2 separate regions of the Homo sapiens genome follow, and region 1 is linked to region 2. Evidence: fine-mapped QTL for protein levels in blood plasma. A gene starts in region 2. The other region holds a variant in brackets. All regions are shown on one strand. Distances are from middle to middle.

Region 1 (7,379 bases), 17 kb after region 2:
GGCGGGGCCGCGGGCGGTGAACGGGGCGCGGCGCGGGGTCCTGACCGGGACCGGAGGGGCAGGGCCGGTCCATCCGGCGCGACCCCGCGTCCCCGTCTCCGTTTCCCCGTCTGTGCAGGGGACGGGCGCGAAGTCTGTCCTAGGGTCGCGCTGGCCACGCGGAAGGGAGGAAGGGGCGGGAGCGAGGCGGGATCCGCAGACCTGGCTTCCAGGCGCGGCGCTGCCTCGGTTCCCCCGACAGCGGGAGCTCTGAGAAGTGGGCGAGGTCGGGGAGGGCTCTGAGGGGTGGGAGGGGCGAGGGCTTCCCTGGTCCCCGTTGAAGTCACCATGTGGTGTGAGGCGAGTGCAGGCGCTGGAGCCATCAGAGGTTGGCAAGGTGCTCCTGCCCCCCAGAGAAACTGGGAAAGAGGCCTACGCCGGCCAGCATCGGCTCAGCACCTGACCCGGGAGAGGCGCCAGCCCCACGGAGCCCCCACCCCAAGCTGAGCCCGAGCCTGGCTGTGCCCTCCTCCCAGCCTGACCTTTGTCCTACCCGAGTCTTTTTTTTTTTTTTTTTTTTAAATGAGACAGAGTCTCGTTCTGTGGCCCAGGCTGGAGTGCAGTGGCACAATCTCACTGCAACCTCCGCCTCCCGGGTTCAAGCTAGTGTCCGCCTCAGCCTCCCGAGTAGCTGAGATTACAGGTGCCCGCCACCACGTCCGGCTAATTTTGTATTTTAAGTAGAGATGGGGTTTCACCATGTTGGCCAGGCTGGTCTCGAACCCCTGACCTCAAGTGTGTTGTTAGGTTTTGAAAGGAAGGGGAGGATGCAGTTTGGACTAATAAAGGGATCCGTCTGCGTCGGCCTCCCAAATGCTGGGATTATAGGCATGAGCCACCGCGCCCAGCCCACCTGAGTCTTGACCCCAGCTGATTCCGGGCATCACTGTGACCCCACCTGACTTCTGACCTGGCTCAGTGGCTGCCCAGACACCCACATGCTCCTTGCTGTGAAGCTTGGTCGGGAGAACTGGCCGTGGTGAGGACGGGGCAGCCCAGCCTCCCCTGAGTCGTGCCCGTGACGGGTGGCCCTGCCCTCGGACTGTGCCAGTGGCATTGTTGCTATGCCCTGGGTACACACAGCTGCATCAACATACAGGCCGGGCACGGTGGCTCACGCCTGTGATCCCAACACTTTGGGGGGCCGAGGCGGGCGGATCACAATGTCAGGAGATCGAGACCATTGTGGCTAATATGGTGAAACCCCGTCTCTACTAAAAATACAAAAAATTATCTGGGCGTGGTGGCGGGCGCCCGTAGTCCCAGCTACTCGGGAGGCTGAGGCAGGAGAATGGCGTGAGCCCGGGAGGCGGAGCTTGCAGTGAGTCTAGATAGCGCCACTGCGCTCCAGCCTGGGCGACAGAGACTCCGTCTCAAAAAAAAAAAAA[AC/C]CAAAAACAAAAACCAGTCTGGGACCAGGGCCACTCTGTCCCGCAGGTGCCCCAACACCTGGCCCCGGCTTCATGAGTCTGGTCCCCGGAAGAGGACCAGCAGGCAAACCTGTCTGGGGAAAGGAAAACAGCATCAGGAGTGGAGAGGGAGGGAGGGATCCAAGAAAGAGCTCTGGGCCGAGCGGTCACTTCCAGAGCTGTCCAGGGCCGAGGCCGAGGCGTCCTCACCCGTAAGGGCCTCTGGGCCTCCTCCCTCAGGCCCCTCTGCCCGGCACCCTGGGGGCCTGGAGTAAAAGGAGGGTCTCGGGACTAGTGGGGCCTTCTGGCTGTGGCCCCTTCACCAAGGTTCCCAGGGTTTTGTGAGCCTCAGTCTCTTCCGTGCCACAGGTCGTGGATATATTGCCAGCATCATGGAGCCGGCAGGCAGCAGCTCATGGGTAAATTAATGCTAATTAGAATTAACCACGATTCCTTCTCTAAGGGCTCCCAAGATCTCTCTTCTTCCGTACACCCACATCCCAGGAAGCACTGTGTGGGTGAGGGAGGTTTTCTTTCTCTCGCTTTTTTTTTTTTTTTTTTTTTTTGAGAAGGAGTCTTGCTCTGTCGCCCAGGCTGGAGTGCAGTGGCACGATCTTGGCTCCCTGCAACCTCCACCTCCCGGGTTCAAGTGATTCTCCTGCCTCAGCCTCCTGAGTAGCTGGGACTACAGACGCATGCCACCACGCCCTGCTAATTTTTTGTATTTTTAGTAGAGAAGCGGTTTCACCGTGTTAGCCAGGATGGTCTTGATCTCCTGACTTCGTGATCCGCCCGCCTCGGCCTCCCAAAGTGTTGGGATTACAGGCGTGAGCCACCGCGCCCGGCCTGGGTTGGGGAGATTTTCAAGCCCCTCCAGCTGGTCCCACAGGGCCCCGACCCCCAGGGAGGCTCAGGCTCACAGCACCCGGGAGCGGTGGACACCAGGGGCTTCCACCTGCCTGCTTGGGGGCTCCCTACTCTGTGGGAACGGGTTCGAATTGGACTGACGCAAGCCCTGGCTGCAGGGAGGGGCCATCCCATCAGTTCCCAGGGCCCCCACCCTGGGCTGCAATGATTGGTTCAGGAACAAGCATGTGACTCCTGACGTCCAATGAGATTCAGCTCTGGGACATTTCTCTGGGATCACAGTGCTGGGGTGGCTGAGCTGGAAGGACCTGGGGCTGGAGTTACGGGGTCATGGTGTCACCACGGGGCCTCCGAACAAAGGCGGCATCACAGGAAAGCCGAGCCGGCTGATGAGAGGGGAAACGTTGATAATCCTATTAGTGATCCTGCATCATGCTGTTACCTGACCTCCCCTGGATGTTCCAATGATGCAAGCTCATGAATTCTTGCCTCTTAGTTCGTTTGTGTTGAGATGGAGTCTCTCTGTGTCACCCAAGCTGGAGTCCAGTGGCGCAATCTCAGCTCATTGCAACCTCTGCCTCCCAGGCTTAAGCAATCCTCCCACCTGTCTCCGAAGTAGCTAGGATCACAAGCGTGCACTGTCACACCCAGCTAATTTTTGAATTTTTAGTAGAGATGGGGTTTTACCATGTTGGCCAGGCTGGTCTCGATCTCTCAGCCTCAAGTGATCCTCCTGCCTTGGCCTCTTAAAGTACTGGAATTACAGGCGTGAGCCACCACGCCCAGCCTTTTTAGTTTATTTTCCTTTCCTCCCTCCCTGCCCCCGTTCCTGTTGCTCAGGCTGGCCTTGAACTCCTGGGCTCAAACAGTCCTCCCACCTCAGCCTCCCAGGTAGCTGGGACCACACGTGCACACCACCACAACCAGGTTAAATTCCTTCTTCGTGCCGGGCGCCGTGGCTCACACCTGTAATCCCAGCACTTTGGGAGGCCGAGGAGGGTGGATCACCTGAGGTCAGGAGTTCCAGACCAGCCTGACCAACATGGAGAAACCCTGTCTCTACTAAAAATACAAAATTAGCCGGGCGTGGTGGCACATGCCTATAATTCCAGCTGCTCGGGAGGGTGAGGCCCAAGAATCGCTTGAACCTGGGAGGCGGAGGTTGTGGTGAGTCAAGATCACGCCATTGCACTCCAGCCTGGGCAACAAGAGTGAAACTCCATCTCAAAAATAAATAAATAAGTAAAAATAAATTCCTTCTTCGTTAATTAAGCCAGTTTGAGTTAGGTTTTCCATCACATGGCAGAGAAGAACCTTAAATTCAAATCTAGTTTCTGCCACGACCTTGGAAATATCGCTCAAACATTAAACCCAGTCTCAGGTTTATTTAATTAATTTATTTATTTAATTATTTTTTTTTTGAGATGGCGTCTTGCTCTGTCACCCAGGCTGGAGCGCAGTGGCTCCATCTCTTCTCACTGCATCCTTTGCTTCCCGGGTTCAAGTGATCCTCCTGCCTCAGCCTCCCAAGTGGGTGACTTGTGCCACCATGCCAGCTAATTTTTATATTTTTAGTAGAGATGGGGTTTCACCATGTTGGCCAGGCTGGTCTGGAACTCCTGACCTCATGTGATCCACCCTCCTTGGCCTCCCAAAGTGCTGGGATTACAGACATGAGCCACCGTGCCTGGCCTATGAGTTTCAGTTTTTTATTTTATTTTATTATTTTATTTTGAGACAGAGTCTCACTCTGTTGCCCAGGCTGGAGTGCAGTGACACGATCTTGGCTCATTGCAATCTCTGCCTCCTGGGTTCAAGCAATTCTCCTGCCTCAGCCTCCCGAGTAGCTGGGATTACAGGTGCGCCACCATACTCGGCTAATTTTTGTAGTTTTAGTAGTGACGGGGTTTCGCCATGTTGGCCAGGCTGGTCTCGAACTCCTGACCTCAGGTGATCCGCCTGCCTCGGCCTCTGAAACTGCTGGGATGACAGGCATGAGCCACCGCGCCCAGCCCGACTTTCAGTTTTTTAATTTGAAAGTGGGTTAGATAAGATAGTTGTACAAAGGTCTTCCTGTGGAGCCCAAGATGTCACTGAGACTCTTACACGATGGCATCTTGCTGCTCTCATGCCTTGTAGGGAAGAAAGACAGTTCTCAGAAGGCAGAGGGGTGCATGTGGGAGGATATGGTCCTCAGGGGAGAGGGACAGGGAGCCAGGACACAGCAGCTGTGGGGCGTTGGGCAACATGGCCAGACCTCGTCTCCACAAAAAAAAAAAAAAAAAAAAAAAAAAAAAAAAAAAAATGTTTCTTAAGCAGCCAGGTGTGATGGTACATACCTGTGGTCCCAGCTACTTGGGAGGCTGAGGCAGGAGGATCGCCTGAGCCCAGGAGTTTGAGGCTGCAGTGAGCTGTGATTTTACCACTGCACTCCAGCCTGAGCCACAGAGCGAGACCCTGTCTAAAAAAAAAAAAAGGGGAAAAACGCAAAAGGCTGTGGGGCCCGTGTGCTTCCAGATGCATCAGAACAGGCTTCCAGGTCAGCTTTCCTCTGTGCAGTCCCGGGCCAGTTCCTCACCGTGGAAGAGGGAATAAGGCCCCCAAGACATCCACATCCTGATCCCCAGAATCTGTGGCTGTACCACCTCAGGTGGCAAAAGGGACTCTACAGGTGTGATAAGAACCCTGAGACGGCAGAGCATCCGGGGTGATGGGGGCCCATGTCCTCACAGGGTCCGTTTAAGAGGGCGGTGGGGGGCGGGCGCCGAGAGTCAGAGACTGGAAGAGGTTGCGCTCTTGGAGGTGAAGGGGGAGGAAGGGCCTGGAGCTGAGGGATGCGGGCGCCTCTGGACTCTGGGAAAGGAGGAAACAGGTTCTCCCTGGAGCCCCCAGGAGGGACCAGCCCTGTTCATGCCTCGATTTTAGAAGTTCTGCCTTCCAGAGCTGTGAGATGGTACGTCCACGCTAAGTCACTAAATTTGTTACTACAGCTACAGGGATTAACACACCTCAATGACTTCCAGCTTCTTCCTAGGGGAAAATTGCTTCCTTCTTTCCCTCCCTTCCTCTCCCCCTCTCTTCCCTTCCCCTCCCTTCCCCTCCCCTCCTCCTCCCCTCCCCTCTGCTCCCTTCCCCTCCCCCTCCCCTCTCTTCCCATCCCCCTCCCCTCTCTTCCTATCCCCCTCCCCTCCTTTCCCCTCCTTTCCCCTCCTTTCCCCTCCCCTCCCCTCCACTCCCCTTCCCTTCCATTCCCTTCCCCTTCCCTTCCCTTGCCCTCCTTCCCTCTCTCCTTCTCTTCCTTCTCTTCTATGTGTAAATCTAGGTTCTGGGGATTGAGCAGTGAACAAAAGCAGTAAACTTCTTGCCCTTGGGTTCACAGGGAGAGAGGCCACAAACCAGCATATAAATACATAAATAAGCAGTTTCTAAAGAATGCCAGGGGTTAGAGAGCCACCGGGATGGTGTAGGAAGGCATCTTGGACTCAGGAGGTGACATATAAGCAGAGACCCAGGTGGCGTGGGGAAGCAGCAGGCAGGTCTGCGGGAACAGTGCTGCAGGGAGAGGGAACAGCACGTCCAGGGGCCCTGAGGTGGGGACAGCCCGACTGGCTAGAGGCCCAGGGTCTGGGTGGTGAGTGCGGGACAGAGGTGAGAAGACGCTGGGGAGCCTCCCGCTCAGCTGTCCTGAGTGCCGGCTTTATTCGCAGACATGGCGGAGGTGAGGGCTGCAAAGTCTAGCCCATGCACCCAACCCAGCCGCCCAGCACTGCGCTCCCGGAAACAGCTCCCGGCTGCATCTCACTGGCCAGCTGGGTTTCTCTGAACCCATCGCTGAGGCTGGGGGAGGGATGCTTTGACTGGCTGGTGGGGACTGGGAGTCCATTTGGGCGAGGGTGTTGGCTGGACCAGCCGGGGGCGGTGAAGGGCTGGGGGTCCAGGTGGGAGAGGGTGTTGGCTGGACCAGCCGGGGGCGCGGTGAAGGGCTGGGGGTCCAGGTGGGAGAGGGTGTTGGCTGGACCAGCCGGGGGCGGTGAAGGGCTGGGGGTCCAGGTGGGAGAGGGTGTTGGCTGGACCAGCCGGGGGCGGTGAAGGGCTGGGGGTCCAGGTGGGAGAGGGTGTTGGCTGGACCAGCCGGGGGCGGTGAAGGGCTGGGGGTCCAGGTGGGCGAGGGTGTTGGCTGGACCAGCCGGGGGCGGTGAAGGGCTGGGGGTCCAGGTGGGAGAGGGTGTTGGCTGGACCAGCCGGGGGCGTGGTGAAGGGCTGGGGGTCCAGGTGGGCGAGGGTGTTGGCTGGACCAGCCGGGGGCGGTGAAGGGCTGGGGGTCCAGGTGGGCGAGGGTGTTGGCTGGACCAGCCGGGGGCAGTGAAGGGAGGGCAGGCAGGGTGCCTCAGGATGAGGTGTGGTGAGGGCCGCTGTGGAGCCCGGGAAGGCGTCTGGCCGTGGTCTCAGTGCTCAGTGGATCGGGTGAGAGGCTTCCACAGAGACCAGAAACTCTGGAGGAGCCCGGGGTCCAGGGAGCCGGCCGGAAGCTCCGTCTTGGATGTGTCAGGCTTGGGATGTCCCCAGGGAGCCAGCAGAGGACTGTTGGGAGGAGGGGAGGCCCTGGATGAAGCCACCAGAGGAGCTGGGGAGAGAGAGGAAGCTTCCAAGGGGGACTGTGGGGTGGGGCAGGAGCCTGTGGGTGCTGCCAGAGGGGATTGCCGCGCTCTATGCTGCTGTGAGGCCAGGGAGGACGCGTCAGCTTCCGGGCTGCGCTGGTAAGGGTCATGCCGGGATTAGGACAGACGGGGTCCTCGGGACCTGAGGGCGGGCACAGTGGGCGGCACAGGGTCAGGGATCAGGGGAGGCCCCGGGGAGCTGGGCGGGGCAGGGGAGGTGGGCTTCGGTCGGCCTTGGCCTCAAGGGACCGGGGCGGAGTGTGAGGTGCACCCTGGGACCAGCTTTGGTGTCCTCTGATTGGTCACTCCTGGAAGCCTCCGTGCCCTGCGTCCCTGTCCGGGTGTCCAGGATTTAAGCCCACCTCAGCCTGCCTGGCTGTGGGCTTCGGGAGGACAGGGGCCTCTCCT
Region 2 (16,307 bases):
ATGCCATAAAAAGTTAAAGATTAGGCCGGGCGCGGTGGCTCACACCTGTAATCCTTTAGGAGGCTGAGGTGGGAGGATTGCTGGAGCCCAGGAGTCTCTAAAAAAATAACATAAAAAAATTAAAAAAGTTAAAGATTAAAAATGCACTTGCCTCTCCCAAAAACACTGTGACTCCAGTCCAATCGAGAGAAAAACATGAGATAGCTGGCGGGTGCAGTGGTCCACACCCGTAATCTACATAAATCCCGTCCAGCCGGCCTCCAGACACGGAGTTCTGAGAAACGGTCGGAGCCTGGGGGTGCCGAGGAGAGGCTGCGGCGAAACGGCAGGTTCGGTCCCGGGTGGGACCCTGTGCAGGAAGAGACATTAGGGGAAACTGAGGAAATCCGAGCCAAGAGTAGGTCCTTAGTAGTTAATCACGCATTCATGTGAGTTCGTCAGCCGTGACTCCTGCTGACTGGAGAGGGGAGCGGCCAGGAGCCTGGGGGCGGGGACGCGGGGGACCCTGTGGATACAGCCGCCACACATCTCCTGCAGACCAAAAATGGTTTTAAAAATTAAGTCTATTACAACACTAACCCGGCCGGGCACAGTGGCTCATACCTGTAATCCCAGCACTTTGGGAAGCCGAGGCGGGTGGATTATTTGAGGTCAGGAGTTCGAGACCAGCCTGACCAATATGGTGAAACCCCGTCTCTAGTAAAAATCCAAAAAAATTAGCTGGGCTTGGTGGTGGACCCCTATGATTCCAGCTACTTGGGAGGCTGAGGCTGCACTCCAGCCTGGGCAACAGAGTGGGAACTGTCTAAAAATAAAATAAAATAATAAAAAACCATTAACGTGGGCACAGTGGCTCATGCCTGTAATCCCAGCACTTTGGGAGGGCGAGGTGGGCGGGTCACCTGAGGTCAGGAGTTCAAGACCAGCCTGGTCAACGTGGTGAAACCTGTGTTTCTATTAGTCTCTACTAAAAATACAAAAAAAGTTAGCTGGGCGTGGTGGTGCACGTCTGTGATCCCTCAGCTACTCAGGTGGCTGAGACACAAGCATCGCTTGAACCTGAGATGGCTTGCAGTGAGCCGAGATCGTGCCACTGCACTCCAGCCCGGGTGACGCACTGAGACTCCATCAGAAGAAAAGAAAGGAAAATAAAAGAAAAAAAGAAAAGAAAAGAAAGAAAGAAAGAAAGAAAGAGAGGAGGGGAGGAGAGGGGAGGGGAGGAGAGGGGAGGGGAGGGGAAGGGGAGACGGGGAAGAAAGGAAAGAAAGGAAAGAAAGAAAGAGAGAGGAGGGGAGGGGAGGGGAGAGAAGGGGAAGGGAGGGAAAGAGAAGAAGGGGAAGGGAGGGAAAGAGAAGAAGGGGAAGAAAGGGAAGAAAGAAAAGAAAAGAAAGAAAGAGTTGGTAGTGAAATTAAAAGATTCTGCAGGAAAACAGCGCGGCGCTGAAACAGAGTCACTGAACAGCCCGAGATGCCACTCCCACGGGTCTAATCTGGAGGGAGGAAGGAGCAGGTAGGTCCACACGAAAACGCACACAGGCGGCTCCCAGCAAAGCTTCAGACGGACGGACGCAGACGAAGCCGCCCAGATGTGCACCCAGGGACGCACCCACAAACGCAGCGAGGCCCCCCTCGAGCTGGAGCTCGACCCCCCGGAGCAGGAGCACGGCTCGGACCCAGCCAGCGCGCGGGTGCAGCTTGAGGACGTCACGCTCAGCGGGAGACGCCAGACACAGAAGGCCACGCAGCGTGATCCCCTGTCCATGAAATGTCAGCACAGGCCCATCCAGAGACAGGGAGGGGATGTGAGGGCACCGGGGCTGGGGTGGGGACGGGGAGTGACGGCCGATGGGGACGAGCCTCCTTTTGGGGTGCTGGGGTGACAGTGGGGACAGAGTCTATTTTCGGGGTGCTGGAATGACAATGGGGGTGGGGCTTCCTTTTGGGGTGCTGGGGTGATAGAGATGGGGCCTGTTTTCGGGCTGCTGGGGTGACAGTGGGGACAGGCCTGTTTTCGGGCTGCTGGGATGACAGTGGGGACGGGCCTGTTTTCGGGGTGCTGGGGTGACAGTGGGGACAGGGCTGTTTTCGGGGTGCTGGGGTGACAGTGGGGACAGGCCTGTTTTCGGGGTGCTGGGGTGACAGGGGGACAGGCCTGTTTTCGGGGTGCTGGGGTGACAGGCCTGTTTTCGGGGTGCTGGGGTGACAGTGGGGACGGGCCTGTTTTCGGGGTGCTGGGGTGACAGTGGGGACAGGCCTGTTTTCGGGGTGCTGGGGTGACAGTGGGGACAGGGCTGTTTTCGGGGTGCTGGGGTGACAGGACTGTTTTCAGGGTGCTGGGGTGACAGGGGACAGGCCTGTTTTCGGGGTGCTGGGGTGACTGGGGACGGGCCTGTTTTCGGGGTGCTGGGGTGACTGGGGACGGGCCTGTTTTCGGGGTGCTGGGGTGACTGGGGACGGGCCTGTTTTCGGGGTGCTGGGGTGACTGGGGACGGGCCTGTTTTCGGGGTGCTGGGGTGACATGTCACGGTGGTGGTTGCCCAGCTCTGTGCAGGTACCAAAGGCCCCTGAATCGCAGTTTACAGGGAGACTCATCTGCTATGTGAGTTGTAACTTGATAAAAGCTGTTACTAAAAAAGAAGATCCTGGGATGCTGTTCAAGGCCCAGCCCCAGGAGCCACGCGGGGAGGACGGCCGCCCACCCCTGCCAGCCTGCAGACCCGGCCACCGCTCCAGTCCTGGCCAACGCCGCCCCCTCCTGGGAGAAGCCTTGGGATCCACAACCTCCCTTTTTAAAACAGGGAAGGGCCGGGCGCGGTGGCTCACGCCTGTAATCCCAGCACTTTGGGAGGCCGAGGTGGGCAGATCACAAGGTCAAGAGTTGGAGACCAGCCTGACAAACATGGAGAAACCCCTTCTCTACTAAAAATACCAAAAGTTAGCCTGGCGTGGTGGCGGGCGCCTGTAGACCCAGTTACTCGGGAGGCTGAGGGAAACAGGTTTGTCGGAAGCCCCACAGCCAGCATGGACAGAGGTGGGCTGGGACTCAGGCGGGCTCTGAGCGTTTCTTCATTATGATTTATTGGTCCCTCCCTGTCCCTCCCACCCGTCCTCACCCACCCCACTGCACCCCTGGAGGGGAAGGGTCCTGTGGAGACAGCGAGGGGGTCCCCATCACCCCAGGGCATCAGGCCGATCGGCCGGTGACCTTCCTGATCCAGGACACGTAAGGCGCCACAGCGGTGGCCACGGGAGGCTTGAAGATGTCAGTGCAGACCCTGGAGCTGAAGGACAGGACTCTGGCCAACACCCGGCCTTTGCCACACACCAGGGGCCCGCCCGAGTCACCCTGCAGGGACGACACACCGCAGCTCAGCCTCTGCACCTGCTGAGGGGACGAGGGGAGCAGGGCCCGCCGAGGGGAGCAGGGCCAGGCCTGTTATCCCCAGGCTCAAGGAGACACAGGGGCTGCTCCCGGCCCACGCGTGTCCCCTCCCCATCTCCCGCTGGCCCTGTGAACCCTGCTCCTTCTTCCCCCGCCGGACCGTCTTGGCTGGAGCAGAAGTCACAGCTCTGCCGCTTCCCGGCTGTGTGGTCTTGCGCAGGTTGCTAAACCTGTCTGAGCCTCAGTTTCTGCACCTGAGAAACGGGACCCCTGCCAGTGCTTCCCCGCCCCCCAGCCCCTGACAGGACTCCCCAGAGAACGGGAGAGCCAGGAACCTGCCCGGCGGCTGCCCTGGCCCCGGCCCTCCCGCCAGCCTCATTCCCCCAGCCCCACCCGGGCGCCCCTCACCTTGCAGGGAGCCTGGTCCTTGGAGTCGGCCGCCAGGCAGACCATGCTGGGGGAGAGGCTGCCGTTCCAGAAGCGGCTGTTGTTACACATGCGGGTGTCCAGCACTTGGAGGTCCAGCTCCCGCAGCACCCGGGACAGGCGCCCGCCCTGGTGGGTCAGCCCCCAGCCGGCCATGCTGCACCGAGTCCCTGCTGCCACCACCTGGCGCTTACTGGGCAGGGCCAACGGCCGGATGGTCCGGCTGGGCTTCACTTTCCCGTCCAGCTACGAGTGACAGGAAGGGGCAGGTGAGCAGGGGGAGGGGGTGAGAGTGCGGGGGCGGGGGGCGGCAGCGGGGGGAGGGGTGGCAGTGGGGGGAGGGTGGGCAATGGGGGAGGGGGCAGTAGTGCGGGGGGAGGGGCAGCAGTGCGGGGGGAGGGTCGGCAGCGGGGGGAGGGCGCAGTGGGGGTGAGGGGCACCCGTGGGGGACAGGAGGGTGCCCAGTTCTCCCTGTCCCGTCCCTGCACACCTGAAGCAGCGCGAGGTCGTTCTCCAGGGCAGGGACGGGCTTGTAGCGAGGGTGCTGGATGGCTGCCTTGATGTGGAAGGTGAGACCGGGGCTGTCCAGGGTGTGGAGCCCCAGCACCAGCCTCAGCTGGGCCATCCTGGGGACAGAGGGAATCAGGGTGCTGCGGCCTGGCCCGGCGTGGACGACCCGCCACATGCAGTCCCGGCCCCCACTGTGCCCGTTGTCCATGGCCATCACTCACAGCCGCTGCCCCTCACAGGCCTTGGCTTGGCCAGTCCTTCCCTGTGTCTTTGCAACCCACCTCCTCCAGGAAGCCCTCCCTGCTCTCACCCCTGCCCCAGACTTCTGCCCGGCCCTGGCCCCAGGCAAGGGCTGTGTGTCCAAAAATCCAACCCCAAGCCTACAGCTTCACGAAAACCAGCCCTGGGAATTCCCTTCACTTGGGGCCCCAGGCTCAACCACAGTGATTTGTACAGGGGTTGACACATGCCAATCCTCCTAAGTGTGCCCCAACTTTAGAGAGCCAAGCCCTCTTTCCATGGGACTGAGGAGGGTCAATCTTTCCACCTTGTGAGACAGGCTTCCTGGTAGTGCAGCAGAGCTGGGAGACAGATGGGCTCCACAGCGCCTCCTGTGAGCACCTGGATCAAGCCGCACCTGAAGCCAGGCCTCCTCCTAGACTTTGCAGTTACACAAGCCGGCAGATCCCTTTTTGTTACTTTGACCATCTTGATCTGGGCTCTGTATGACGGACCAGTCCTGAGGTAGGGCAACTCCATGATGGGTCATTTAGCGGCTTCCTGATCCCCGGGAACCAGGTCGATTCCCGAGCCACTCTCGAAGGCCGGCTTCGACCTCCTGGCCACAGGTGGCAAACACCCCCACCTGACCCTCCTTCCTTATAGCAGAAGCCCCCGCCTAAGTTGGGTCCATCAGCAGGTGAATGGACAGACACAATGCACTCTGTCCACACCAGGACTGTGGCTCAGCCGTGAAAGGAGCCAGGCTCTGACCCAGGCTGCGGTGTGGAAGGAGCTGGCCCTGCCAGTGCCTCTTGCAAGGAGTAAACCTTCTCCAGGAGTCCCACAGCCGCAGGTCACTTAAACCTGCCTAAGTCGTCACCGGGAGGGGACGGGGGTCCCACAATGGGCCTAAATCTCCCAGAGCCCACCCCCTGCAGAGAATGGGCGCCGTCGGATGGATTCCCCGGACCCCTGGGGTGGGCAGGGCAGGGTACTCACCGCTGGGCCAGGCAGTGGGCAGCCGTCAGCACCCACTTTGGGTGCACCAGGACACCCCCGCACAGGTGGGAGCCATTTCTCTGCAGTGAGGCCATGTACGGGCGCGAGTGGGGGATCACCTCCCGGCCCCCGATGATCTGGGTCCCAAAGGAGCTGCCTGCCAGGATGGGGGACAAAGAGCCAGGTTGGGGCTACATGCCCCTGCTGCCTGCTGCGACTGTCCTTGCCCAGCTCAGAGGCCCAGGACCCCAAGCAGATGTGCCATCCTAATGAAGTCCCCAGTGTTCCCCGAAACTTTTAGGCTGATACGTGTGGGCTGCCCTTCATCCCTCCCATCCCCCTCTCATCACCCCCATCATGTTCCCCCCAGGCCACCTCCCAATCCCCTCTCCAGGACCTCCCCAGGCCCCACTGGGCCCCACAGCCACAGGAGTCCTTCAAAACGCACATCAGGCCGGATGTGGGTGGCTCACCCCTGTGATCCCAGCACTTCGGGAGGCTGAGGAGGGAGGATCACTTGAGGCCAGGAGTTCGAGACCAGCCTGGGCGACACAGCAAGACCCAGTCTCTTAAAAAAAACTTTTTTTTTCTTTTTTTTTGAGACAGAGTCTCGCTCTGTCACCCAGGCTGGAGTGCAATGGCACGATCTCGGCTCACTGCAAGCTCCGCCTCCTGGGTTCATGCCATTCTCCTGACTCAGTCTCCCGAGTAGCTGGGACTACAGGCACCTGCCACCACGCCTGGATAATTTTTGTATTTTTAGTACAGATGGGGTTTCACCATGTTAGCCAGGCTGGTCTCGAACTCCTGACCTTGTGATCCACCCATCTCAGCCTCCCAAAGTGCTGGGATTACAGGTATGAGCCACTGCACCTGGCCATTTTTTTTTTTTTTTTGAGATGGAGTCTCACTCTGTTACCCAGCCTGGAATGCAGTGCCGTGATCTCAGCTCACTGCAACCTCTGCCTCCTGGGTTCAAGCGATTCTCCTGCCTCAGCCTCCCGAGTAGCTGGGATTACAGAAGCGCATCACCACGTCCGGCTAATTTTTTTGTATTTTTAGTAGCGACAGGGTTTCGCCGTGTTGGCCAGGCTGGCCTCAAACACCTAACCTCAGGTGATCCACCCTCCTTGGCCTCCCAAAGTGCTGGGATGACAGGCGTGAGCCACTGTGCCCAGCAAGAAATGTAGTCTTTAAATAAGTAAATTGTATAGTGCATAATTTCCTAATAAAGCTGTACAAAAATTATTTTAAATCAATCATAAATATAAAAGGATTGATTTCATAATGTAACGTAAATCAGCTCAAAATCTTCTCTGAATCCCCATCATGCTTTGAAAATCAAGTCCCCGCTTGCGGGCCGGTGCAGTGGCTCACGCCTATAATCCCAGCACTTTGGGAGGTCAAGGTGGGCAGACAGCCTGAGGTCAGGAGTTGGAGATCAGCCTGGCCAATGTGGTAAAACCCCGTCTGTACTAAAAATACAGAAATTAAGGCCGGGTGCGGTGGCTCACGCCTGTAATCCCAGCACTTTGGGAGGCCGAGGCAGGTGGATCACGAGGTCAGGAGATCGAGACCATCCTGGCTAACACGGTGAAACCCCGTCTCTACTAAAAATACAAAAAATTAGCCGGGCGAGGTGGCGGGCATCTGTAATCTCAGCTACTTGGGAGGCTGAGACAGGAGAATCGCTTGAACCCGGGAGGCAGAGGTTGTGGTGAGCCGAGATCGTGCCATTGCACTCCAGCCTGGGCAAGAATAGCAGAACTCCATCTTAAAAAAAAAAAATAGGCCGGGCGCGGTGGCTCACGCCTGTAATCCCAGCGCTTTGGGAGGCCGAGGCAGGCGGATCACCTGAGGTTGGGAGTTTGAGACCAGCCTGACCAACACGGGGAAACCCTGTCTCTACTAAAAATACAAAATTAGCCCGGCATGGTGGCAGGCGCCTGTAATCCCAGCTACTCGGGAGGCTGAGGCAGGAGAATCGCTTGAAACCAGGAGGCGGAGGCTGCAGTGAGCCGAGATGGCACCATCGCACTCCAGCCTGGGTGACAAGAGTGCAAGTCTAGCTGTGCCTGCAAGCTGCCTGCACCCTGGGCCTTTGTCTGTCTCACTTAGCTGCCTGCGTACCTTTCCCCCACCGGCTTCCTCCCTTGGTTTATGCTCGTCTCCTGCAACGGCCCCCCACCCGCCCTCTTGCCCTCCGTGTTTCCTCCGCTCTGCACAGTCTCATGCCTGGCCTGTCTCTTCCAGTCAGACAGGAGGGCAGGCCTAGAACAGCACGAGCCCTGCAAATACGGATGGATACACAGAAGCACGGGAGAAAGGAAGGAGGGATGGAAGGAGGAATGGATGATGGATGGATGGGAGGGAGGAGGGAAGGAGGGGGGAAAGGAAGAGAGAGGCATGATGGATGGATGGGTGGATACATGGAAGGAGGGAGGGAAGGATGACGGGTGGAGGGAAGGAGGGAGGTTGAAAGGAGGGATGGATGATGGATGGACGGGTGGGTGGAAGAATGGGAGGAAGGAGGAATGATGGGTGGATGGACTGGCGGAGGGAAGGAAGGGGGAACGAAAGGAGGGAGGGAGGGATGGATGATGGACCCATGGGTAGAGGGATGGATGATGGATGGGTGGGTGGAAGAATGGAAGGAGGAATGATGGGTGGACGGACGGGTAGAGGGAAGGAAGGGGAGATGAGGGAGGGAGGGAGGGAGGGAGGGAGGGATGATGGACCCATGGGTGGAAGGAAATAAAAATGGGAGGAAGGATGATGATGACTGACGGCTGGATTCCTACCTCTGTCCATCTTCTTGGGTCCCCAACTCATCAAGAGCCCCTGTCACTCAGTCCAGCTGGAATGCAGGGGAGCCGCCACCCACCTCCCTTCTCCCTCACTGCTGGGCACCTAGTCCCAGCCAAGCCCTTGGTGGTGGCAGGCAGCCAGCGGGGATCGAGTCCCAGCTCTGCCCTCCCAGCTGGGCAGTCCTAGGTCAGCATCTCCTTCGCCAAGTCTCAGTCTCCTACTCTGCACCTCGGGTGTGAGCGTGACCCCTGCCTTCTGGCTGCTGCCGGGAGGATGGGCGAGGTGAGCCGGTGGACACCACACTCTCCCACGGTCCCGGGATGTCCACTCGGGGTGAAGCGTGAGGAGCTCGGGATGCCCCAGGCCTCAGTCCCCCTCCAAACAAGGATGAATCTCCGCTCTTACACCCAGGATGTCGGCGCCCGCGCCCACCCCTCCCATCCAGGGACCCACCGAGAGCGCTGGGCCTCAGTGTCCCCCCTGCATCCCGGCTCCCACTCACCTACTGACAGGGCCCCCAGGGCCAGCACCAGCAGTGAAGACACGCAGGCCTCCATGCCGCTGTGGAGACCCAGTGTGGGTGCTGGCCCCGGCCCCGAGCCTCCCCACACGCGCTTCCTGTGGGGGAGGTGAGGTGACGGTCACAGCCCCGCCCACCGCTGCACACCCTCCACCCTCCATCCTTGAGCATTTTAGAAAGTGTTTCTCAAAGAGGACTCGAGATGAAGCCACACTACCATCATCACACCTGACAAAGTAACACTTTTTTTTTTTTTTTTTTTTCAGAGATGGAGTCTCGCTCTGTCGCCCAGGCTGGAGTGCGGTGGTGCGATCTCGGCTCACTGCAAGCTCCGCCTCCCGGGTTCACGCCATACTCCGGCCTCAGCCTCCCGAGTAGTGGGACTACAGGTGCCCACCACCACGCCCGGCTAATTTTCGTATTCTTAGTAGAGACGAGGTTTCACCATGTTGACCAGGCTGGTCTCAAACTCCCGACCTCAGGTGATCCACCCACCTCGGCCTCCCAGTGCTGGGATTACAGGCATGAGCCACCGCGCCCGGCCACTACTTCCTGCCTCTGAATTGGTCTCTAGGGACCTCCCAGGAGTGGAATCACACAGGACCTGTTGCGTTGGCGTCTCTCCCAGCATGACGTCCTCAAGGTGCATCCAGGCTGTGGCCTGTGTCAGAGCCTCGCTCCTTTTTGTGGCTGTGTCACATCCCATTGTGTGGCTGGACCACGCTGTGTTTATGCATTCACCAGCGGACGGATATTTGCGCTGTTCTAGTTTTTGGTCTTCATGAATAAAGACACTGGCCGAAGGCGGTGGCTCACACCTGTAATCCCAGCACTTTGAGAGACTGGGGCAGGAGGATCGCTTGAGCCCAGGTTGGGGCTGCAGTGAGCCGTAATTGCACCACTGCTCTTCAGCCTGGGTGACAGAGCAAGACCCTGTCTCAAAAATAAATAAATTTAGGCCGGGCGCGGCGGCTCACGCCTGTAATCCCAGCACTTTGGGAGGCCGAGGCGGGCGATCACCTGAGGTTGGGAGTTCGAGACCATCCTGGCCAACATGGTGAAACCCCATCTCTACTAAAAATACAAAAATCAGCTGGGCATGGTGGTGGGAGCCTGTAGTCCCAGCTACTCAGGAGGCTGAGGCAGGAGAATCACTTGAACCCAGGAGGCGAGATCGCACCACTGCACTCCAGCCTGGGCAACACAAGACTGTGTCTCAAAAACAAAACCAAACCAAACCAAGCAGCTATGGATGATCCTGAGACCTGGGTGTGGCTGTGCCAGTAACACTTCACTCACAATAGGGGCGGACGCCAGGTTTGGTCCCGAGGGCCATGGTTTGCTGAGACCCCAGGGCCCCATTTTCTGTCCCAACTTGGTGGGAAACCTCATCCTCACAGCTCCTCGACCCTGAATCAGCCACTGAGCGACTTTCCGGGTGCCCAGAAGCGGAACGCAGGCAGGTTCCTGGAAGGCGGTGCCCCGGGAGGGCATGGGAGCTCCGAGCTTTCCTCCATGACATGTAATAAAACGATGCTGGGGACTTCCTGACACCAGGACGTGAGGTGCCTGCCCTGTGTGCCCAGGGCCACGGCTCCCCACCCCGAGGGTGTGCCTGGACGGAGCTGGAGCCGCCGGAGTGCTGATCGGGGGCATCTGTGGTCCTGGGAGCCCTGAGACGCTGAGATCAACGCCCAGGCGGCTGTGGACCCGCGACGAAGCTTTGCTGGATGCCTGCAGAGGCAGCTCCCGTCCCACTAGATGCACCTGGTCACAGGGAGGAGGAACTCTGGGGGCTTTCTGGCCGCCCCTGTCCCGCAGGCTGGGGGATGCTGCCCAGGCCTGTCTGACCCAAGTCATGGGAACGTACAGGCCGCGGGACCCGGCTGCTCCCCGTGCCTCCCAGGACAGGCCTCCCAGATCCACACCTGGCGTAGCCAGGGTCCCAGTGGGACTGGCCGTGTGCAGTCACTCATGGACGTGGAGGCTGCCTCTCCCTCCCAAGCACAGCTTCTCTGGCCTCTCATAAAGTAGTTTTATTTAGATTTCAAACAAACCAAAGCAGGGAAAAGAGTCGGCCACGGTGAATCCGTCCACTCTGTGCTGGACGTGGCTCCAGGACCTGGAGCTGACAGGCAGGACCGGGCCCCTCGGACCGCTACACCTGGGCCTCCCAGGCTGGTAGTGTCAGGAAACGGCCCCCCGCCCACGTTCCCAGCAGCGCCCCCGTGGCTCCTCCGGGGTGCGGCCAGTCCGGAAGCTGGGGGACCCCGGTAGAAGTCGGGCTCAGCTCCCCTCCCGAGGGGACAGGTGGGCCGGCCGCTCCCACCCTGGGCCCGTCCACCGAGCCCCGAGTGACGTGAGTGGCGGTGGGGCAGCCCCTCTTCTCTGAAGCACGTGAAAACCCAGAACAGACATGGGGAGGGAGAAAAAGCCAAAACGAAACAACCAGAGGAGACGGGGACCAGCACAAAACCTCCGTGAGGTAGTCTGTCGTCTAAGGAGCCACGGGTCCGGCCCTAGTGAGGTAAACTCGGCAAGTTTATTCTGGTGGTGTCAGGACTCCTCCGTGCCAGAGTCATCCTCATCGTCCCCGAAGCAGCTGTCGGCCTCCTCCTCCACCTCGCCGTCCTCGTAGTAGTCGTCGTAGAAGAGGTCTGAGCCCTCGTCGGGCGCCGGCGCCTTGGTCTTCACGCAGTACTCGGCCAGCGTGGTGGGCACCTTCACGCCGTCACGCTCCGCGTCCACCTTGGTCCCCAGGACCTGCTTCCTGGGGGGACAGGGTGGGTGAGGGCGCCACCCACGTGCCTGGACTCGGCCCCTGCCCGGCCCCCCTCCCCCAGGTCCGACGCTCACCCCAACGCTCAGGTTTCTCTTAAAACGGCGTGTGGCGACCACTTAGGACAAAGCCCTGTGCGTGAGGAACTCCAGGGGGAGAAATGACAGAGGAGGGGGCTCGGGAAGGGCAGGAGGTGCGGGTGGGAGGCTGGACGGGCGCAGTGCAGTCACACCCGCCTGCCCCGCCCCGAAGCACAACCCAAGGGACCCATCAGGAGCTGGGAGAAAATAACGATGCCGGCAACAGGGAGGGCCCATGCTGCCCCACTGGGGGGCAAAAGCCTTCCTCAGCGCAGGAGCAAAGGAAGCAGCTGGGAGGGCCCAAGGACAGGAGGCAGGACCATCCCTGGAGACGGGAACCAGCACAGGTGAGATGGGAAACGCAAAAACGGCCTGAGCCTCTCCGTGGCCTCAGCAGGATTCTAAACCCGGGGGCCTGGCCACCCCGGCCTCCGGATTCTAAACCGGGGGGCCTGGCCATCCCAGCCTCTGGATTCTAAACCCGGGGGCCTGGCCATCCCAGCCTCCGGATTCTAAACCCGGGGGCCTGGCCACCCCGGCCTCCGGATTCTAAACGTGGGGGGCCTGGCCACCCCGGCCTCCGGATTCTAAACCCGGGGGGCCTGGCCACCCCGGCCTCCGGATTCTAAACCCGGGGGGCCTGGCCACCCCGGCCTCCGGATTCTAAACCCGGGGGGCCTGGCCACCCCGGCCTCCGGATTCTAAACCCGGGGGGCCTGGCCACCCCGGCCTCCGGATTCTAAACCCGGGGGGCCTGGCCACCCCGGCCTCCGGATTCTAAACCCGGGGGGCCTGGCCACCCCGGCCTCCGGATTCTAAACCCGGGGGGCCTGGCCACCCCGGCCTCCGGATTCTAAACCCGGGGGGCCTGGCCACCCCGGCCTCCGGATTCTAAACCCGGGGGGCCTGGCCACCCCGGCCTCCGGATTCTAAACCCGGGGGGCCTGGCCACCCCGGCCTCCGGATTCTAAACCGGGGGGCCTGGCCACCCCGGCCTCCGGATTCTAAACCCGGGGGGCCTGGCCACCCCGGCCTCCGGATTCTAAACCCGGGGGGCCTGGCCACCCCGGCCTCCGGATTCTAAACCCGGGGGGCCTGGCCACCCCGGCCTCCGGATTCTAAACGTGGGGGGCCTGGCCACCCCGGCCTCCGGATTCTAAACCTGGGGGGCCTGGCCACCCCGGCCTCCGGATTCTAAACGTGGGGGGCCTGGCCACCCCGGCCTCCGGATTCTAAACCTGGGGGCCTGGCCACCCCGGCCTCCGGATTCTAAACCTGGGGGGCCTGGCCATCCCAGCCTCTGGCAGGAAGGGAGGACAAGTTAGCTCAAACTTCCTGGAGGGCACCGTGTACACCCGGCCCTATGAGGGGCTGCACCGCGCACACCAGGACCTACGAGGAACCTGCCCCCGGCTCCACCTCCAGGACACGCGTCAAGAATGTCCCCCCAGGACTGGAAGCAAAGGGGCTTCCGGGGGTGGCACAGCAGGGCCAGGCGGCACGCTGACCCCATTTGACAGAAAACAGGAACGAGGCTGCAGCCGCAGGCAATGGGCTCGAGCCCCTATCACCGACCAGGCACGGCTCTGGGCTCTGGGGCTGGCTGCTACCAGGGTGTGCGGGTCCCACAGTGCCCGCATGGGAGGGCACCAGGGAGCAGACAGACAGCCCCAAGCCCAGCCCACAAGCCCAGTGCTTTTTATGGGGATGCATGACGCGTGGAGGGCAGGCGTCTGGCCTCAGGGACGTCCCTGGGTGGCGGGACCCAGCGGACGCCAAGCTTTGCTTTCCAAGCTCTCCGATGGGCTGGGGGGGTGACTGACAGTGCCCCGGGGACGGCACTGCACGGGTGGCAGCAGTGGGGAGACGCAGGGGAGGGCCAGGGTGGACGGGCTGGGGGGGTGACGGTGCCCCGGGGACGGCACCGCAGAGGTGGCGGCTGTGGGGAGACGCAGGGGAGGGCCAGGGTGGGAACTGACCTGCACCGTGGAGGTGCCGCCGGCACACCGCCAGCATGAGCTGGAGGACGGTCTGGAGGTCCTGTTCAGCAAGACCAACATCCCTGACCAAGCCGGGCTCCACGGCAGCCTGCCCGACACAGCTCAGCGGGACTTGGGCTGCCACGAGGCCAACACGCACACAGATGAAAAAACAGGCAGAAACGGCGACCACAGCAGAGTCCACATGGCACATGTGTGTTGGCCCACAGGGAGTTTTGAGGGATAAAAATAGTGTGGCTTTTATTTCTGTGCTGGGATCTCAAGGAGGTGGTGCCTCAGGGAGGTGGCCGGGAAGAACCGGGCCAAGGAGCCAGCCACCTGGGCCAGGTGACACGACCGGACCGGGGCCACCGAGGACATCTGCACCAGAGGGACGGCCAGGGCAGCTACCCTGTGACCTCCAGAGGCCAGCAGGTGCTTGCAGGCCACTTCCCAGGAGGCCGCACGGGGCCCGCCCACCATGGCTGCTCAGAGCCGAGACCGCCCAGCACCAGGATGCTGCCCCGAGATGACCCCACGACACCAGGTACCAGCGAGTGCAGGATGGAAGGTGCCCTGGATGCTCCTGGGTCCTGGGGCGAGGAAGACACATGCATTATGTGTGCAATATTTTAAAAGTTGTTTTTAAGATTCTGTTTATACAAAATACCAACAAAAATAGGTGAGGCCTCTGTGAGGAAATCTATGCAATATCACTCTGAGAAAAAAAAAAAATGGATAGGAAGGGCCTCTATGTAACAGGAAGAGCAGGAACCATTAAGGCCGTCAACCCGTAAAGAAAGCCTTGTCTTTGTACACAGACACGCACGTGTTTACACATTCATGTGAACACAGGCACCCAAGAGAAGGGGCTGTGGGGCTCAGCTCTGGGGCATGAGGGCGATGGGAGGAGAGGGAGAGCCGTGGGTCACCACACACAGCCACGCAAGCTAAGTGGACTGCAGGTACAGAAGGCGCCGGTAGGCGACTGCACAGCTGTACCCAGAGCTCACCAGGCCAAGAGCCTGCAGGGACGCACTCCAGACATGAGTAAGGCCAACACCCCTGACTAACAGTCAGTCACTGGGCACACACAGCACGACCCCATTTTTTCATTAAAGCACAGACACATGTTCCCTAACAGTCAGTCACTGGGCACACACAGCACGACCCCATTTCTTCATTAAGGCACAGACACATGTTCCCTAACAGTCAGTCACTGGGCACACACAGCACGACCCCATTTCTTCATTAAAGCACAGACATGCGTTAAACTGAAAAGCCTGGAAGAATCTATGAAAACACTAACCACCAGGCCAGGTGCAGTGGCTCACGCCTGTCATCCCAGCACTTTGGGAGGCCGAGGCGGGTGGATCACCTGAGGTCAGGAGTTTGAGACCAGCCTGGCTAAGATGGTGAAATCCCACCTCTACTAAAAATTACAAAAATTAGCTCGGCGTGGTAGTGGGCACCTGTAATCCCAGCTGCTTGGCAGGATGAAGGGGGAGAACTGCTCCAACCCGAGTAGTGGAGGCTGCAGTGAGCCGAGATCGCACCACTGCACTGCAGCCTAGGCAAGAGAGTATAACTCTGTCTCCAAAAAAAAAAAAAAAAAAAAAGGCCGGCCGCGGTGGCTCACGCCTGTAATCCCTGCACTTTGGGAGGCCGAGGCAGATGGATCACGAGGTCAGGAGATCGAGACCATCCTGGCTAACACGCTGAAACCCCGTCTCTACTAAAAATACAAAAAATTAGCCGGGCGTGGTGACGGGCGCCTGTAGTCCCAGCTACTTGGGAGGCTGAGGCAGGAGAATGGCGTGAACCCGGGAGGCGGAGCTTGCAGTGAGCCGAGATCGCGCCACTGCACTCCAGCCTGGGTGACAGAGAGAGACTCTGTCTCAAACAAAAAAAAAGAGGAAAAGGGGCAAGAAGCTGGGCTTGAACCTGGCTGGACCCTCCGCCACTCGGCCCGGCCTCCATCTGTGACTGGCACCCTGTAAATGGGCACCAGGAAGCTCCGCCACCCTCACCAGGAAGGTGGGGCTGGGCGGCCGTGGGACCAGGGGCCGGGGTGCAGGCCGGATCTGAGTCTCTCCTCCCGTGACGCCCCCGCCCGCCCTCACCGGATGATGTCTGTGTACTCCCGATCCTTCCCCTTGCTCTCTTTCCACTTCCTGTACATCACGGAGGCGTCCACGTTTGCGGGCGAGAAGGTGTTGGGCTCGTTCAGGAGGGAGATCACACTCAGGAGAATGGTCCTGTGGGGAGAGTGGGTCGGAGTGGGGCGGCCCGGGGCACCCCAGCCTTCCGGCTCTTCTCTGGCCCTGAGGGTCACGGGGACGCCTGGACCCACCCAGCAGGTGACCTTCACCTGGCCTCATGGCCTCTGCTTCTGTCTCAGGCCCCCAGAACAGCAGGGGCTGGACCTGCATCAGTCTCCTCCCTCCCACGCCAAGACCAGGGAGGGCAGCAAGGTGCAGACCCCTCCGTCAGACCCGGGGCTGCCCTCACACCCGCACGTCCTGCCTAGACTACACTCCAGGACACACGGGCAACACGGCCCAGTGCTTGTACCTGGGGACGAGGCCCAGGCGGCACACGT

Evidence for each region. A credible set is the group of variants that fine-mapping cannot tell apart. PIP is the posterior inclusion probability: the model's chance that the variant is causal. Protein levels are from the aptamer-based SomaScan assay of Sun 2018.
Region 1: its variant is the best candidate, but not a certain one, in a credible set for the plasma level of the GZMM protein (Sun 2018, PIP 0.90).

The regions. Positions count from the first base shown.
Region 1 is chr19:524,005-531,383 of GRCh38, reverse strand. No RefSeq gene overlaps it. Among named protein-coding and RNA genes, the nearest start is that of CDC34, 4.1 kb to the left of the region's middle. RefSeq lists a silencer at 1-119. The variant AC/C (reference allele first, on the strand shown) is at 1,428.
Region 2 is chr19:536,669-552,975 of GRCh38, reverse strand. It overlaps GZMM (granzyme M), which reads right to left and starts at 8,923. Exons shown (of 5, transcript NM_005317.4): 1 at 8,850-8,923; 2 at 5,540-5,696; 3 at 4,299-4,434; 4 at 3,791-4,054; 5 at 3,054-3,346. The coding sequence starts at 8,904. The coding sequence ends at 3,185. CDC34 (cell division cycle 34, ubiquitin conjugating enzyme) reads right to left here. Exons shown (of 5, transcript NM_004359.2): 4 at 15,829-15,963; 5 at 10,889-11,637. The coding sequence ends at 11,424. RefSeq lists an enhancer at 8,910-9,555.